2 separate regions of the Homo sapiens genome follow, and region 1 is linked to region 2. The links come from fine-mapping of genetic effects on gene expression. A gene starts in region 2. The other region holds a variant in brackets. All regions are shown on one strand. Distances are from middle to middle.

The links.
Region 1: its variant is fine-mapped to the expression of LDHC in minor salivary gland (GTEx, PIP 0.94).

Annotation. Positions count from the first base shown.
Region 1 is chr11:17,823,643-17,834,192 of GRCh38, reverse strand. All of the region lies in intron 10 of SERGEF (secretion regulating guanine nucleotide exchange factor), which reads left to right. Among named protein-coding and RNA genes, the nearest start is that of KCNC1, 94 kb to the right of the region's middle. RefSeq lists an enhancer at 469-969. The variant A/C (reference allele first, on the strand shown) is at 5,872.
Region 2 is chr11:18,407,470-18,415,634 of GRCh38, reverse strand. LDHC (lactate dehydrogenase C) reads right to left here and starts at 3,317. Exons shown (of 8, transcript NM_017448.5): 1 at 3,227-3,317; 2 at 2,792-2,926; 3 at 334-451. The coding sequence starts at 2,917. LDHA (lactate dehydrogenase A) reads right to left here. Exons shown (of 8, transcript NM_005566.4): 8 at 7,210-8,165.

The sequences.
Region 1 (10,550 bases), 580 kb after region 2:
TATTCACTATCATGAGAACAGCATGGGAAAGACTTGCCCCCCTGATTCAATTACCTCCCACCAGGTCCTTGTCACAACACGTGGGAATTCAAGATGAGATTTGGATGGGGACACGGAGCTAAACCATATCATTTCACCCTGGCCCCTCCCAAATCTCATGTGTCCTCACATTTCAAAACCAATCATGCCTTCCCAACAGTCCCCCAAAGTCTTAACTCATTTTAGCATTAACTCAGAAGTCCACAGTCCAGAGTCTCATCCGAGACCAGGCAAGTCCCTTCTGCCTATGAGTCTGTAAAATCTAAAGCAAATTAGTTACTTCCTGGATACCATGGGGTTACAGGCATTGGGTAAATACAGTCATTCCAAATGGGAGAAATTGGCCAAAACAAAGGGCTACAGGCCCCATGCAAGTCCAGAATCCAGCGGGGCAGTCAAATCTTAAAGCTCCAAAATGATCTCCTTTGACACTGTGTCTCACATCCAGGTCACTTGATGCAAGAGGTAGGTTCCCATAGTCCTGAGCAGCTCCACCCCTGTGGATTTGCAGGGTACCGCCTCCCTCTTGGTTATTTTCACGGGCTGGGGTTGAGTGTCTGCAGCTTTTCCAAGCACACAGTGCAAGCTGTCATTGGATCCACCATTCTGGGTTCTGGAGGATGGTGGCCGTCTTCTCACAGCTCTACTAGGCAGTGCCCCAGTAGGGACTCTGTGTGGGGAATCCCACCCCACATTTTCCTTCTGCACTGCCCTAGCAGAGGTGCTCTATGAGGACCCCACCCCTACAGCAAACTTCTGCCTGGGCATCCAGGCTTTTCTATACACTTCTGAAATCTAGACGAAGGTTCCCAAACCCCAGTTCTTGACTTCTGTGCACTTGCAAGCTCAACACCATGTGGAAGCTGCCAAGGTTTGAGGTTCGCACCCTCTGAAGCCACGGCCCAAGCTCTACGTTGGCCCCTTTCAGCCAGTGCTGACAAAGAGCACCAAGTCCCTAGGCTGCACACAGCACAGGGACCCTGCTCCCAGCCCACAAAATAATATTTTCCTCCTAGACCTTCTGGCCTATGATGGAAGGGGCTGCTCTGACATGCCCTGGAGACATTTTTCCCCCTTGTCTTGGGGATTAACATTTGGCTCCTCGTTACTTATGCAAATTTCTGCAGCTGGCTTGAATTTCTCCTCAGAAAATGAGATTTTCTTTTGTAGTGCATTGTCAGGCTGGAAAATGTCAGGTGTTTTCCAAACTTTTGTGCTTGGCTTCCCTTATAAAGCTGAATGATTTTAACAACACCCAAGTCACCTCTTGAATGTTTGCTGCTTAGAAATTTCTTCCGCCAGATACCCTAAATCATCTCTTTCCAAAGTTTCACAAATCTCTAGGGCAGGGACAAAATACCGCCAATCTCTTTGTTAAAACATAACAAGAGTCACTTTTGCTCCAGTTCCCAACAAATTCTTCATCTCCATCTGAGACCACCTCAGCCTGGATTTCATGTCCATATCATTATCAGCATTTTGATCATAGCCATCCAGCAAGTCTCCAAGAAGTCTCTAGGGAGTTCCAAACTTTCCCCACATTTTCCTGTCTTCTTCTGAGCCCTCCAAACTGTTCCAACCTCTGCCTGATACCCAGTTCCAAAGTCACTTCCACTTTTTCGGGTATCTTCAGCAGCAGCCCACTCTACTGGTACCAGTTTACTGTATTAGTCCATTTTCACACTGCTAATAAACACATACCTGAAACTGAGCAGTTTACCAAAGAAAGAGGTTAAATTGGACTTACAGTTCCACGTGGCTGGGGAGGCCTCACAATCATGGCGGAAGGCAAGGATGAGCAACTCACATGTTATGTGCATGGTTGCAGGCAAAAAATGAGAGAGCTTGTGCAGGGGAATGCCTCTTTTTAAAACCATCAGATCTCATGAGACTTATTGACTATCATGACAACAGCACGAGAATGATTTGCCCCCATGATTCAGTTACCTCCCACCAGGTCCCTCCCACAACGTATGGGAATTCAAGATGAGAGTTGGATGGGGACACAGCCAAACCATATCGCCATCTCACACATAATGACAGAATCCCAAAAGGGGAAGTTGCTAACCCAAGGTCAGACAACTAGTTAATGATGGTGCTGGAGCTGGGGCCAGAACCAGATCTTCTAGCTTCAGATATAGTGGACTTTTTACACTCTGTGATGAAACCTATGCTCTGGGGAGATTAATGAGGCTTTCTAGGGGAGGTAGTTTGAAGGAGAGGCAAGAGTCAGGGAGAGCCTTGAGATGTTTTTACAGTTCAGATGAAAGGTAATGCACAAGGTCTTTAATTAGGGCTTTGGAAGTGGGCTGATGAAGAAGGGGCTGATGGGAGAGAACATAGAGGTCCAGTCAGCAGGACTTGGATGTGGAAGACAGACAAGAGGGAAACTTACCCTGTCTTCAGTTATTGTTCTTTACTGAATTGTCCATTTGGTAGGCTATCTCAAAGTGGAAAAGAAAGGGTATAGAGCCAAGATAAATACATCAAACACTTCCAGTATTTCCCCAAATGAGCCTCTTTGCAATTGTTGTTGTTGTTCCTCTTCCCTAGAAGGCCTAATTCTTTTCCAGAACCTGGCCTTCCAGCTCTTAAGTCCTCAGAAATGGGATCCATTTGCCAGCTACTATTCTGGCTTCATGATTTTACTCATGGGCTCTTGGAACTGCCCTCATTGTCTGAGTGTGTCCCTGGTTTTGGCTTTGCCACCAGGCCCCATGAAAGTGCCATACATGTGACTTGCCTCCCATCCTGTGACTCTAGGTTTGAAACCAAAGCCCTGAGACAACCTGCAACCCGTGCTGACCTCCAGAATAGGCCAGGCACCCAGCCTGAAGGAGAGTGCTGGACTGGACTTTAATTGTGTAGGGGTCTTGCCCCAGGTCTGTAGACCACTTGCATCAGAATCACCTGGGGAATATTAAAATGTGGGTTTCTGGGCTCTATCTCATCCTGCTGAATCAGAATCTCTGGAGGTAGGTGACAGGAACTTGTAGTTTTGACAAGTGCACCAAGTGATTTTTATTTACCTAAAGTTTGATTCTGCCTTAGATAGTTTTTTTTCCTGGACCTCAGTTTCCTTGTTTTAAAATAGGAAAATTATATATTCAGTTTACCGTGAAAATAGAAAAGTACTTTGGGAAGATGCTAAAAGTTTATACATATTTACTTATCACATATTATTAAGTTTACAGTCTTGAGATAAAGAAAATTTGAAATATTTCTTAGACTGAAATACACTGAAAACCAGTAAATGGTCTGAGTACTCACACTTAGAAAATGTATGCTTACTAAGTGATACGGTTTGAATGTTTGTCCCCTCCAAAATTCATGTTAAAACTTGGTCATTATAACAGCATTAAGAGGTGGGACGTGTAAGAGGTGTTTAGGTCTGCCCTTATGAATGGACTAATGCTGTTATGGAGGGAGTCGGTTCATCCTGACTTACTCTTGCATGTACATGTGCTCTCTCTCTCTCTCTCTCTCTCTCTCTCTCTCTCTCTCCCTCCCTCTCCCTCCCCCTTTCCCTCTCTCTCTCTCTCTCTCTCTCTCCACCTCTCTCCCTCTCCCCATCTCTCTCCCTCTCTTCCTCTCTCTCTCCCTCTCTCTTCCTCTCTCTCACTCTCTTGCCATCTACCATGTTACGATGCATCAGGAAGGCCCTCACCAGATGCTGGCACTTTGATATTAGACATCTCAGCCTCCAGAACTATAAACCAATAAACGTCTATTATTTATAAATTATCCAGTCTGTGCTATTCTGTTATAGCAGCACAAAATGTACTAAGACACCAAGTGAGTGAATATATGAATGAATAGCTCCAGGAAAGGCAAACCCTGAAGAAAGGTCATTAACTTTTTCTTCAACATCCCCTACTTCATGCATTCAATCAGCATTATTCACTGAGTGCCTAATATGTGCCAGGGCACTATGCCAGGCTGAGAATATAAATAGGATGTGGTCCTTGACCTTAAGGGATTGGAGATCAATGTGAGTGTTCAATACAGTGTGATAAGCACTGGCCCCAGGATGGGTAGAGAGGTGGGTATTAGTGCTTTGGCAACCAGAGCAGAAATCACCTCTATCTGAGCCTGTCAGGAAAGGTGTCACCAAGGAGTTGGCCTTGGAGTATAGGATTGTTCCAAGAAGGAGGAAAGCCCTTTTTACAGTCCTTGTCACTGGCTTCCTTCTTCCATTCCATTAAATTCTGTCATCAATTTCCTCTCCTCCTCCATCAAACTAATCTCAGGAACTCAATGTTTATGTGTTTTTTGTTTTCTTTTTCAACCTACCCAAATCTGCTTTTATACTCAAAACCAACACTTAGGTTTAGTCATAAACACTTGGTCTTAAAACAATGCTTTTTTGAGGATCAGGGTAGTTTACATTGTCACCCCTAAAAGTTTTCATCTGAAATAGTTTTAAGCTCTATTAGGGATTTTGTTTGTAGGTTTACTTTTTCACAGCTGATAGGAGGAGTGTTGCAGTTTGTTGGTTAGTAGTTGTTGGATTTTTTTTTGGGTGGTGTGGGGAGAGGATTGGTGACAACTGGTTTACCCCAGCTCCTGTTATTTTACTAGATAAATAATCACTATTTTGCTTACCCATAAAGAATCAAGGGTTAATTCATGGTCTTCTTTGTGTTTTAAGGTAAAACGATAATGGTTAATGAATCAGACTTTAAAGTGGCATAGCCCTTTACAACTTACAACATGTCTTGACTGTTCATGTTCTTCTTTTCTGGTCAAAAGGTGGTCCACAAACCAGAGGCAGGGAGGGAGACGCTAATTAGAAATGGAGAACCTCAGGTACTACCTAAGACCTGCTGAATCGGAATCTGCACTTTAGCAGTATTCCCTGGTAATTTTTATGCACAATAAAGTTTGCAAGAGACTATAAAGTTAGTGGTTTGTCCGATTTATTGATTAGGACATTGAAGTCTGGAGAGATTAGGGAACTTACCCAAGGTCACGTAACAAGTAGCAGAGCCAGGCCTCAAGCCCTGGTCTATCTGATTCCAGTTCAGCACTTTGTCACTGTCCTACTAGGTTTCTTTGTGCCATATTAACTGGAAAACACTTCCTCTGTGATTGATTCATGGTTGTGAAGAAGGAAGAAAGTAACAATTTTTCAAAGTATAAATGTATCTTCTTGGGAGTTGCAAGGGACTAGAAGAGTTAACGGGGAGCTCACAGGCTGAACCCTGACTTTATGCCAGACACTTGGACAATTATACACAGGAAGCCTTGTTCCCATTTTACGGATGGTAAGAACCCTCAGTATTTTCCTGACCTTGATGAGCCTGTAGGGACTCTCGGGGAAGCAGGGGTTGAATGTCGTATTTAAAGCTCAGGCACTAGGACTTTCTGGGTTGGAGGTGAAGGAATCAGATGTTGGACATTTCTTTTCATCCTTAAAATAAGATTCTCTTCTGGTATGAGGCTTTGACTAATCAGGTTGGGTGGCTGCCCACTTCTTCTGGAGTCAGGAACTTAGGCTTTGGCCACCAGGAACTCCTCTTGATTTATGAACAACTCTGTCTTGTAGAGTAAAAGCGGTTTTCCCAAAGAGGAAAAAATAGCTTAAAAGAAGGCCTTGAAGAATCAAGATGACAAAATGTATTATTTATAAGGACCTAAAATAAGTGCCAGATCCTCCACTTGAAGTGAGCAGGCGACAGCCGTGCGCTGTGTGGAGTAGAGCCCAGCTGACTCCAGCTGGATCCACACGGCAGGGCTGGTCAGCCACAGCTCTGCTCACTATTCCAAGGCTCTTCTCGGAAAGACTCCTGCTGCCGGTGCAGGCCATCTGTGGAGCTCACATGAATGCGT[A/C]CCGGCTTACAAGCTTAAAGAGAAAATTCTTGAAGGAAGCTGGAGGAAATGCAGTGAGAATCTGTGGATTGGTAGAAAGAGGCCACAAACACACACTCATACCTGTAACACACACGCATGTAAGATTACATCAACTTCCCGACTTACTCACTCAAGGATACAGACACGTTTTGAGAGTGAGGAGTCCAGGCAGCACACAGTAGATACGGGGTATCTCAACTCCGCCTTCACTAGCCCCTAGCTCCCTAGTGGAACTTGCAGCTGCAGGTAACACCATCCATGCAGAATAGAGTTCTGTTGCATCCAGGAATCAGCCCCTTCTTGCTGCATCACAGGCCTTTTTCACTCAAGGCTTGTCTCATCATTCTTGAAGAACTTAGTGCTGCTATGTTTTCCTTTAAGAGAATGTTCACAAACATTTCTTATACAAAAAGCTCTTCCACTTTTTGAAGCAAACTAATGGTCAGCAAGTCTACATCTTTATCCAGTGGGGAAAAATACAGATTCAGTGTCTAGGAGTCTCTGATCAATAGCCAGCATTGCAGAAAACCCATTTCCTTGCCACTCATCCTTTCACTCTGGCCTAATACCTTTGTTATCTGGAAGTTCGTGATACTGAGTTAGACCTGAGGATCATTTCCCAAATCTGTTTTTCTGGAGGGCAAGATTCAGTGATGCGGCGAGAGGTAACTGAAGAGTAGGAGGTGATGCCGAGGGATTTCTGAGGGCACCCAAGGCAAGTAGGAGATTGTGCTGCAGCTCCAGAACTGTTACAAGTCTTACCAACAGAACAATAGGCTAGGATTTGAACATACACTGCAGATTTCAGAGCCTTCTCACCGAACTCTAATTATTCCTGTGTCATTGTCTTTCTCTTCCTCTTCAAAATTTCTCTTCTGGGATATGGTGACTACACTGTGGGGAGAAATGCTTTTAGTAGCTCTTTCTGTATTTGGAGCTTACTTTGTGTTCTCTGTTGGCTGATGGCTCCCTCCCCAGCCATAGGAGCTGATTATGATCCAGCGGCCCTGATGCAGTCCCCTGGCAGCATCAACCTGGTTTTGCCTCTGGTTCTGATCTCAAGGACCCTCCAGTTTCCTCTTATCATAATGGTTGCCCCTAGAGGGCAGGATTCAATAGGCTGAGAGGTTTACCTACATGCCCTGGCAGTACAGGGAGCCTTCAAGAAGATGGATATCTGACCTTTCTACCCCCTACATCCCAATTCAGAATAATAAAATCTCAGGCTTGAGATAAATTTTCGGCATTTTAAAATCCAGGCATCTATTTAATATTTGAACGAGAGGCGGCGTGGTATAGAAGAAAGAACACTGGCTGAATTCAAATCCCATCTTCACCACTTTCTAGCTGTGTGATCCTTATAAGCAAGGAATGCCTTGCAGGGCCCTGCTGGAGAATAAAGATAATCTAGGTAAAGTCCTGACATATATGATATGCTTCATAAGTAGTAAGTACCATTGTCCTGTAAACCAGAGCTTTCAAACTTTTTCCTTCAGAACACTTAAATTCTTTCACATATTCTCTATCATATATGATGTTTAGATTCCTCACAGCCCTGGTTACTTTATTTGTTATTATTATTACTATTGTTACTTTTATTGTAAAATATATATGACATAAATTTATTATTTTAACCATTTTAAGCATGCAGTCTAGTGGCATTAAATACATTCACATTGTTGTGAAACCATTATTACCATCCATCTCCAGAACATTTTTATTCTCCCATACTGAAATGTTGTACCTATTAAACAGTAACTCCCACTCCCCATCCGTGCAGCCTGGGCACTCTATTTTGAATAGCATGCTCCAAATTCCTCAGTGTCTTTCTTCCCATTGCAAATGGAGGTTAAAAAGAGCCTCTTGGAAGGGTTTGAGTTCTTCAAACTCCCACTGGGGAGCCCGAGAATTAAAAGTCTATACCAGTTGCGGCAAACTTTTGGGATTGCAGATGGTTACAAAATTAGTGTCAATATAGCTGCTTTGCATGGAGTGGATCTGGCAAAGAGGCTTCTAAGCACTGATACATTCCTTTCAGAAATATCAAAGGATATGGCTTGGCATAGCTTTGGGGAGAAACCAACAGTTTTCGAATTCTTGAATAGCATCTACCTTATGGTGAAGATTAAATGATATAATTCATGTCAAGTGTATAATACAGTGCTTGGCACAGATCAGGCCCTTATATGTAGGCTTTTGTTACCATAATTGCACTATGGCAGAGATTACATATATGTTTTGGTAGTTAATTCCCATGATAGGTAGACACCATTTTCATCTTATCTGAGGAAACTGAGTCTCTGGGCTGCTAAAGCCCCCAAAATTACAGAGCTAGTAAGTTATAGAGTAGCAGAGCTGGGATTCAAACCCATACTCTTTCTCTTATAAGATGCTGCCTGTTGTGATACACCAAGAAAGGAACCCTGTGAGTGAGGTGTACTGACTTCATCTTGATGTTTCATCTTTCTGTATACCCTGGCCCTTTTCTAGGGTCATACCATCTTGCTGTTTCTTATTCTTAAAATCATACACCTAATGTCCAAGCTTCAGAGCTTTCTGTATTTACCAGTCCCCATTCTCTCTGTGAGTGAAGTGATCTCTCACAGTCTTCCATAAGCTCTAAAGTAGGAAACCAAAAGCATGTGTGCAAACCATGGAACTCTCTGGCTTTATTCAATGAGTATCTAAGAGCTAATGAACTGCACATAGAATTTAGAGGAACGTTGACTAGGATTTGATCAGAAAATGGTACTTTCCAGGACATTCAGGGCACCCACAAACACTAGGTAGAGTTTGTTCAGAAAAGAAAATGCTTACATTTGACTTCTGTGAGTGATTGGGATTCATTTTCCTTTCAGAAAACAAGAACCAAGTCACGCTCTCTTGCTCTTTCATGGTTGCTAGGAAGCTAAAGCCAACCTGGATGCTCAATTTCGGCATGTATATAAGCTCCTAGGGCTGGCATTTGGATACGCCTCCTTTCCATGGTTTTGAATTTCCGCTTGTATTTTATTTACTGTATTATAGGAATACCCTTTCAAAGGAGATGAGCTTAGAGTAAGTAAATCAATAAAAACTATAAGCCCCTAGAGGTCAAGGACCATTTTCATTTACTTTAGTGTCCCCAGCACATAACTCAGTATCTGGCGTATAGTAGATGCTCAGTAAATGTTTGTCAGTTGAATGGATGAAAGTGATTAATGAATCAGCATTCAAAATGACTTAAGAATGCCATCTCTGGTACCTTCCTTTGGACTTTCAGATAACAAGGCCATCAAGGTGGAAGCTTTAGAAGGTGTTCCTTGGATTTTGGAGGTCTATCATTAAGAAAGTGTGTGCACATTGCTAGACATCGGAAATAATATTGGCTTAGACAAGACAGAAGCATTTTCTCTCACTGTTATGGACTGAATTGTTTCTCCCCAAAATTCGTAGATTAAATCCCTAACCCCCAATGTGACTGTATTTGGAGATAAGGTATTTAAGGAGGTAATGAAGGTTAAGTGAGGTCTTAAGGATGGAGCCCTAATCTAATATGACATATCATTATGAGATGCAGAAGAGACACTAGGAATTGCTCTCCCTTTACATGCAGAGGAAAGGCCATGTGAGGACACAGCAAGAAGGCAGCCATCTGCAGGCCAGGGAGAGACTTGCTAGAAACCAACTCTGATGGCACCTTGATTGTAGACGTCTAGCTTCTAGAACTGTGAGAAAATTAATTTCTGTTGTTTCAGCTACCCAGTCTGTGGTATTTTTTGTTATGGCAGCCCAAGCAGACTAATACATTCACGCATGACAGGTCTGATGATATCCCCCCACAAGATTGCTATAATAGTTCTACAGATATCAAGGGCCCTAATTATTTCTATCTCTCTGTTTCACTATCCTTAACATAGGCCTTTGTCTTCAAGATTTTCTCAAGGTCCAAGATGGCTGCTAGCAATATTCAGCCAGATAGAAGGGAGAAAGGACAAAGAGAGGCCTTTTTTTTTTTTTTGAGACGGTGTCTCGCTCTGTCACCCAGGCTGGAGTGCAGTGGTGCGATCTTGGCTCACTGCAAGCTCCGCCTCCTGGGTTCACGCCATTCTCCTGCCTCAGCCTCCTGAGTAGCTAGGACTACAGGCGCCCGCCACCACGCCCGGCTAATTTTTTGTATTTTTAGTAGAGACGGGGTTTCACCGTGTTAGCCAGGATGGTCTCAATCTCCTGATGTCGTGATCCGCCCGCCTCGGCCTCCCAAAGTGCTGGGATTACAGGCATGAGCCACCGCGCCCGGCCAAAAAGAGGCCCTTTTAAGGCACTTTCCCTGAAGTGGTACCAAGCAATGTCAACTAAAAACTGGCCAGAGCCTAGTTACATAGCCAAACCTGTCATGAGGGCTGGGAAGTGAGACTTTTAGCTGGGCATATGTTTATCCTGAATAAAATTTGAAGTCTGTTACCAGGAAAGAAGAGGAGAATGGATAATAAGTAGGTAACCAGCAATCTATGCCTCAAAGAGCAGGAGAATTGTGGGGAATAAAGGAAGCTGGAAGTCAGCATCTCACTCATAAAACAGTCCCACTTCTCAGCACCTGAGCAGTACCCTGAGTGCCCTAAGCAAGGTGATGAGAGGAGATGGCTCTCACCTACAGATTAGTCCAAGCCCCGTGCTTG
Region 2 (8,165 bases):
CATGGCAAAACTACGTCTCTATTAAAAATACAAAAATTAGCCAGGCGTGGTGGCGCATGCCTGTAATCCCAGCTACACAGGAGACCGAGGCAGGAGAATCACTTGAAGCTGGGAGGTGGAGGTTGCAGTGAGCCAAGATCGCGCCACTGCACTCTAATCTGGGTGACAGAGTGAGACTCTCTCAAAAAACAAAAAAAATTGATCAACTAAATTAAATTATATGGCCCAATGGCATGGTGCTATTTTTAATTTTATATTTATTGACATCTGTTTGGTAAAATTTATTACTTTTTTAAAAAGCTTTGAAAATAACTTTATAAAACTAAAATTAACCTTTTCCAGAAGTAATCTTTGAAGTACTAAAGAAAAGACTGCCATGCTGAAGATCCATCATTTCTCCCTTCAGTTTGTCCAATGCAACATCAACAAGGGCAAGTTCATCAGCCAAATCCTAAAATATACAAAAGTTCTGAATAAAATGTTCCTACTTAAGTTTTAGGAGAATAAGAAGAATTTTCATGTGGCTACTTGATAATTAAAGGAATCTCATATTTTAATAGGGAAAAATGATATAAAAATAGTTTTTCAATGAGCCTGGGTGACCGAAAGTCAAGGTAAGTAAATATTAAGATGTAGCAAAAATTGTTTGACTTCATATAATTGTTAGAACTTTTTAGAGCTGGGTGTTTTTTGTTTTTGTTTTTTTTTGCCATTCAGATAACAGTTTGAAACCAAGGAAAATAAAATGATTTCAAAGGCTTTTATTATATTTAGCCTTTATTTTTGTGTTTTTTGTTTTGTTTTGTTTGAGATGAAGTCTCACTCTGTCGCCCAGGCTGGAGTGCAGTGGCACAATCTCGGGCACTGCAACCTCCGTCTCCCAGGTTCAAGCAATTTTCGTGCTTCAGCCTCCCGAGTAGCTGGGATTACAGGCGCCCGCCACCATGTCCGGCTAATTTTTGTATTTTTAGTACAGACGGGGTTTCACCATATTGGTCAGGCTGGTCTCAAACTCCTAACCTCAAGTGATCTACCCACCTCAGCCTCGCAAAGTCCTGGGATTACAGGCCTGAGCCACTGCGCCCGGCCAGGATTTTATTATATTTAACCTTAACCCTAATTTCTGAGTTGGCTAAAGCTGCTTTTAGTATGCGTCGTTATGGCCCAAACAGGAAGGTAACCACCTCTGATGAACACTTATTGTTTTCATCTGTCTAGTGTCCCTTTTTCTGGTAATAGAATTTCTCTTTTCCATGGGAACCCATTCCATATGTTTCAGTGCAGTACAATTAACATTGGTTTTCCAAGCTTAGGGTAGATGGGCATAAAACCAGACCTAGCCAATTGTTCCATCCTTTCCTTCTGGTCACAGAAATCAGTTCATAAGTGGACATATGGCCCAGGTATAAGAAACAAGCATGTCTATGAAGTTTGAAAATGGAAGACGGAAGATTACATCTCACTTTTCTTTGGAATCATAAGCTCTAAGAATAACATGCAAATCTAAGAACATTAGTAAGGACTGTAGAGTTGGAGAAAAAACAAGAATCTAAGAACAAACTGTACAGCCATCTTTACCACCACATAGAAAGGCTCTACGAATTAAGCCAACAGAGAAAATCTAAACCAAGATATACAAAGACTATGTCTTGATATGTGTGAACTTCAGAATCCGGTAGTACCTGAAGCAGTTTTGCCCTATTTCCAGTTACATGAACAATATTTCGTCTTTTTCTGCTTACCCTAATTTAAACTGGGTTTTTGTCACATGTGACAGAGTACGGAACTATATACAAGGAGTGTATTCATTCAGATTTCAATAGCCAGATTCCAAAAGCGAACAGTAAGGGAAAGAAGTAAAAGTCCCTACTTAAGGCCAGGCGTGGTGGCTCATGCCTGTAATCCCAGCACTTTGGGAGGCTGAGGCAGGCGGATCACGAGGTCAAGAAATCAAGGCCATCCTGGCCAACATGATGAAACCCCGTCTCTACTAAAAATATAAAAATTAGCTGGGCGTGGTGGCACATGCCTGTAGTCCCAGCTACTCAGGAGGCTGAGGCAGGAGAACTGCTTGAACCCGGGAGGCAAAGGTTGCCGGGAGCCGAGATCCTGCCGCTGCACTCCAGCCTGGCAACAGAGCGAGACTCCGTCTCAAAAAAAAAAAAAAAAAAAAAAGAGAGAACAATAAACACTGGGGACTCCAAAAGCAGAGAGGGAGGAGGGCACAAGGGTTAAAAACAATACCTATTGGCAGCCAGGTGTGGTGGCTCATGCCTGTAATCCCAGTACTCTGGGAGGCCGAGGCAGGCGGATCACTTGAGGTCAGGAGTTCGAAACCAGCCTGGCCAACATGGAGAAACCCCATCTCTACTAAAAATATAAAAAATTAGCCAGGCCTGGTGGTGCATGCCTGTGGCCCCAGTTATTCAAGAGGCTGAGGCAGGAGAATCGCTTGATCCCGGGAGGTGGAGGTTGCAGTGGGCCAAGATCGCGCCACTGCACTCCAACCTGGGTAACAGACAAATCCTGTCTCAAAAAAAGAAAAAGAAAAGGAAAGTCAGAAAAAAAAAGAAAGGAAAAGAAAGAAGAAGTTTAAAAAAAAAGGAAAAGAAAGAGAGAAAGAAAAAGGAAGGAAGGAAGGAAGGAAGGGAGGGAGGGAGGGAGGGAGGAAAGGTCAAAGGATACATAATTGCTTTCAAGGGATTAACCTTGCAACCCTGAATACATCGACATATACAACACTCTGAAGTGCTCACTTGATTTTCAGCCACAGGATGGGCTTCTCACTCACCTTCAGTAAGATACTAATAGCACAAGCCATGCCTACGGCACCAGTTCCAACAATAGTAATTTTACACTGGGAGTTTTCATCATCCTCAATTAGCTTCTCAATTAGCTGCTCCTTGACAGTTGACATTTGGAGAACCTGATAGGGATAATGCAATTTCATTGGATTAACCACACTGAACATCTAAGAAACTACCTCTTCAGTTTGCAGAATGTTGGAGCCGGGGATGGGGGGAAGCCAAAGAAAGAATTTCCTGGTCAAAGGATGCGGGGAGGGTAAAGCAAGGCCCAGTCTACCAGGCAATGGGAGGGCTGGGGCACCAGCGGGCTTTTGGATTTCTCCCTGCCCCCAGCCACCACTTTCACCCCAGCACCACACGCTCACAAATGCTTTGCTTGGCGCAATCAGTACAGATGACCCACAGGGACAAAGCACCACCTTTGAAGGAAGGCACAGAAGTGACACCAGAAAAATACACCAACGACAGTTGAGGCGCTAAGCCCGTCGACGGTTGCCCTCCGTGCGACTCGAGACACGCACGTTCCCCCGCTCGGCTCTTATGCGTCAGCACGCAAGCTCCGCCCCCCGCCGGCCCAGGCGCGGGCATGGGGCGTCTTTTCTGCCCTGGAGCGCAGTGTGGGTGGCGGCGGTCCAGATCACCGAAATGCTGATGGGAAGAATTCTAGACTGGCCCAAAGAGTGTGCAAGACGGGGATATCCATGCATTGTTTGCAGGATTTTAAAAAATTATTAACTTCTGTAACTTCAGGACTGAGTGCTGAAATAAAGTTAGAATTTCTCTTGAGAGAACAGAGGGTGGTAATGAAACGCAAAGACGCGAAGGATGCTTTCAATTTACAGCAAGAAATTGTTAATATTTATAACTCATGGCCGGACGCGGTGGCTCACACCTGTAATCCCAGCACTTTGGGAGTCCGAGGCAGGTGGATCACCTGAGGTCAGGAGTTTGAGAACAGCCTGGCCAACATGGCGAAACCCCGTCTCTACTAAAAATATAAAATTAGTCGGGCATGGTGGTGCATGCCTGTAGTCCCAGCTACTTGGGAGGCTGAGGCAGGAGAATCGCTTGAACCCAGGAGGCGGAGGTTGCAGTGAGCCAAGATCGCGCCACTGCACTCCAGACTGGGCAACAAGAGAGAAACTCCATCTCAAAAAAAATTTACATATATATTTTTTTTTTTGTGAGAGAGATATATATCTCACAGAAGGGGACACAACCTACTCCATCTTTTGTAGAGTATTTGCATTTGAACCTTTTTCAAAATCCAAAATATAATTTATTTTTCTTATAATAGCCTGTAGTGTTGTTATTGTTGTTGTTTTTGAGACAGAGTCTCACTCTGTCGCCCAGGCTGGAGTGCAGTGGCACAATCTCAGTTCACTGCAACCTCCGCCGCCTGGGTTCAAGCAATTCTCCTGCCTCAGCCTCCCAAGTAACTGGGACTACAGGCGTGCGCCACCACGCCCGGCTAATTTTTGTATTTTTAGTAGAGATGGGGTTTCACCATGTTGGTCAGAATGGTCTCCAACTCCTGACCTAGTGATCCGCCCTCCCAAAGTGTTGGGATTACAGGCGTGAGCCACCGTGCTGAGCCACCGTGCCCAGCCGCCGGGCAAATTTTTTTGTATTTTTTTGTATTTCACCTTGCTGGCCAGGCTGGTCTCGAACTCTTGACCTCAAGTGATCCACCCACCTCGGCCTCCCAAAGTGCTGGGATTACAGGCGTGAACCACCGCACCCAGTCAGTATTTGTTTTCAATATGGTTCAGATTATGCAATAACCCTGCTTTAAACTCTTCCGTGGCTTTCCATTACAGGTAGAGTAACCCACTTTTACCACAACCTAGATCTTCAAGATTTGGCCTCCTACCCCCACTTCCCATATCATCTCAGGACACTCAATACACTTCCTTCCAACTAGGCTTTGGACAGCTTTTTTGGATCAGGACTTTTTGCTGTTCTTTAAACCAAGAAAGCTCTTTCCCCAGCCCTTCTCAAGGTTAATTCCTCATTTTCAGCTTTGCACATACATACTCTGGCTTTCCTTGACAAATGTCAACTACCATCATTTCCTGTATATCTCTCTCTTATGGCACTTTTCTCAACCAGCAACTAGCCTGAAGCTAGAGGCCTCCTATAGCAGACAGGAGCAGCAACCACTTGGTCCTATACCTCCACAGCAACCTCATTTATCCCCGGGCTGAGAGGGAGATTGCTGGCCTGGATGGACTGGAAATTTAAGCTCTACACCTGCCTCAGGCCCCTGGCGGCCAAGGAAGGTATCAGCTTGGTAGTGGCCAAACTGATGCTAGATGACTAGAACTGGCTCTTCATCCATGCCTGCCCAAATACTCCAAACTTACTTAACATTTTGCTTACTTGATTGCAGTAACTTTAGAACCAAAATTTGTCTTTATTTATTCTTGTACATTGCAACATTTACCAAAGCATAGTAGGTACTCACTAAAGAATTTTTGGGCCAGACATGGTGGCTCACTCCTGCAATCCCAGCACTTTGGGAGGCCGAGGCTTCAGCCCAGGAGTTCAAGACCAGTCTGGCAACATAGGGAGACCCCCATCTCTACCCCCAAAAATAAAAACAAAATAAAATAAAATAATTTTTTTTGAGACAGAGTCTCGCAGTCTCGCCCAGGCTGTAGTACAGTGGTCCGATCTCGGCTCACTGCAAGCTCCGCCTCCCGGGTTCACGCCATTCTCCTGCCTCAGCCTCCCGAGTAGCTGGGACTACAGGCGCCCGCCACCATGCCCAGCTAATTTTTTGTATTTTTAGTAGAGATGGAGTTTCACTATGTTAGCCAGGATGTTTTCAATCTCCTGACCTTGTGATCCACCCGCCTCAGCCTCCCAAAGTGCTGGGATTACAGGCGTGAGCCACCGCACCTGGCCAAAATAAAAAAAAAATTTAAAGAATTTTTAAAGAACATGGCTTTGAAGTACTGAGTTTTATTTTGGCAACATGGGCTTTAGTGGGGGAAAAAAAGGAAGTAGAACCATGTTCTGAGCATCACATTTGCTTCTACACTAACTGGCAACTTCTGTGAGATGGGGATAAGGCCTGCTTAATTTAGTTCCCAAGGTTACTATGGAAAAAAAAAATCAAGTTTCTTTGCAGAGTTGGCCTATTCCTTGCCTGGGGCAGGAAGGTACAAACTGAACCTGGAACATTTATTTTGCCCATAAGTAAGGAAACTTTACAAGATTGCATTTGAAAATTCATGAAAGATTAATAGAATCAGTCTATTTCACTTAAATATTATTTTTCAGTCATGTTGGTATTGACTAATTTATTGTATCAAATAATATAAAATTAATGTAAATTTAAAAATTTTAAAGACTGAAGGTGACTCAAAGTTTACAAAAGGCTACAGGATTAAGTACAGGCCTCTTTTTGTGCTAATTAAAATATTCTTTTTTTTTTTTTTGAAACAGGGTCTCACTCTGTCACCCAGGCTGGAGTACAGTGGTGGGATCTTGGCTCACTGCAACCTTTATCTCCCGGGTTCAAGGGATCCTCCCACCTGAGCCTCCTGTGCAGCTAGGACTACAGGCACCTGCCACCACGCCTAGCTAATTTCTTTTTTGTAGAGACAGGCTTTTGCCATGTTGCCCAGACTGGTCTGGAACTCCTGGGCTCAAGCAATCTACCCACCTTGGCCTCCTAAAGTGCTGGGAATTTGAAGCCACTGCACCCAGCCTATATTCTAAGATTAGATACTGGTGATGGTTGCCAACTATGTGAATACACTAAAAATCCACAGAACGATACGCTTTATAGCTGTGTCCAACCCTTTGAATGTGAGGACTCTTTAGGTGGCAGCAGGTATCCAGATCATGAACTTTTTTGTAGCTCATCAGCTATCATTAGTGTTAATTTCTTTAATTTTTATTGAGACAGTCTCGCTGTGTTGCCCAGGCTCGAGTGCAGTGGTGCCATCTTGGCTCACTTCAATCTCTGCCTCCCCGGTTCAAGCGATCCTCTCACCTCAGCCTCTTGTGCCTCAGCTTCCCAAGTAGCTGGGATTACAAGCATAGGCCACCATACCTGGCAAATCTTTCGATTTTTAGTACAGATGGGGTTTCACCATGTTGGCCATGCTAGTCTTGAACTCCTGATCCACCCGCCTCAGCCTCCCCAAGTGCTGGGATTATAGGTGTCAGCCACCACAGCTGGCACATGTTAGTGTATTTAATGTGTGGCCCAAGACAATTCTTCTTCCAATGTGGCTCAGGGAAAGCAAAAGATTGGACAACCAGGCTTTAAGATAATTCCTTCCCTTAACTAGCTCTCAGGAAAGAATCTTTGGAAAAAGATCCTGGAGTTGGGAATGACAATAATGTTGTTCAGTTAACCTTTACAAGTATGGTTTTCAGGCCTGGATAAGGGTCACAGTTGTATTTTCAGAAAAATGTGCAGAAAACTTGAGTAGACATCCACCAAGGTTACTTGTTTTTTTTGGTTTTGTTTTGTTTTTTTAACAGATGGGGTTTTGTTGTGTTGGCCAGGCTGGTCCCCAATTCCTGGCCTCCAGTGATCAGCCCACCTGGGCTTCCCAAAGTGCTGGGATTATAGGCATGAGCCACTGCACCCTGCCTTAAGATTGTTTTTAATTGTTACCAGCTTCCAGAGGACAAGATCTCAAAAATCTGTGTTCCCTATAGTGACACACTATCATTGCCTATATTCAGTTGGCAAATAAATTTTACATTTACATATAGAATGTTACTTTCCAATTATGATTAGCATTATTATCAAATATATAATACTTTGGGACTTACAATGGAAGTGGTACCAATACAACTCAGTTGACTATTACATCCTCTGCTATTAGTCAATAATATCCCTGTTAGAAAAAATCGTTGCAGGGTTGCCCAAGAATAGCCTAATATTTCCAAATTAATATAATAACTAGCAGCTTTATGACTTTATATCTTAATATAATGAATTAACCAAAGTAGTCACTGTTCAAGGTTTATTGGGGGTTTTAGTTGGTATAACACTTGGATAGTTGGTTGCATTGTTTGTATGTAGATCTTTTTACATTATATGGTAATGTACACTACTGATATAGTTCACAAAATAAGATCCTTTGGAAGAATTATGCACAAGACATGATATTGGATTTATACACTGGATCCCAGGATGTGACTCACTGGGAAAAAATGTTGGACTAGGCATGTTCAGTGAAGGAGCCAGGAAGTTATATAACACACGGTAAACATCCACCTGGCTCAAGGGGCAAATGCAGTACGTACAGCATTGGCAGTGGTGCGTCAGAGGTGGCAGAACTATTTCACACTAACCAGTTGAAGACTACACAAGATTAATACCATCCA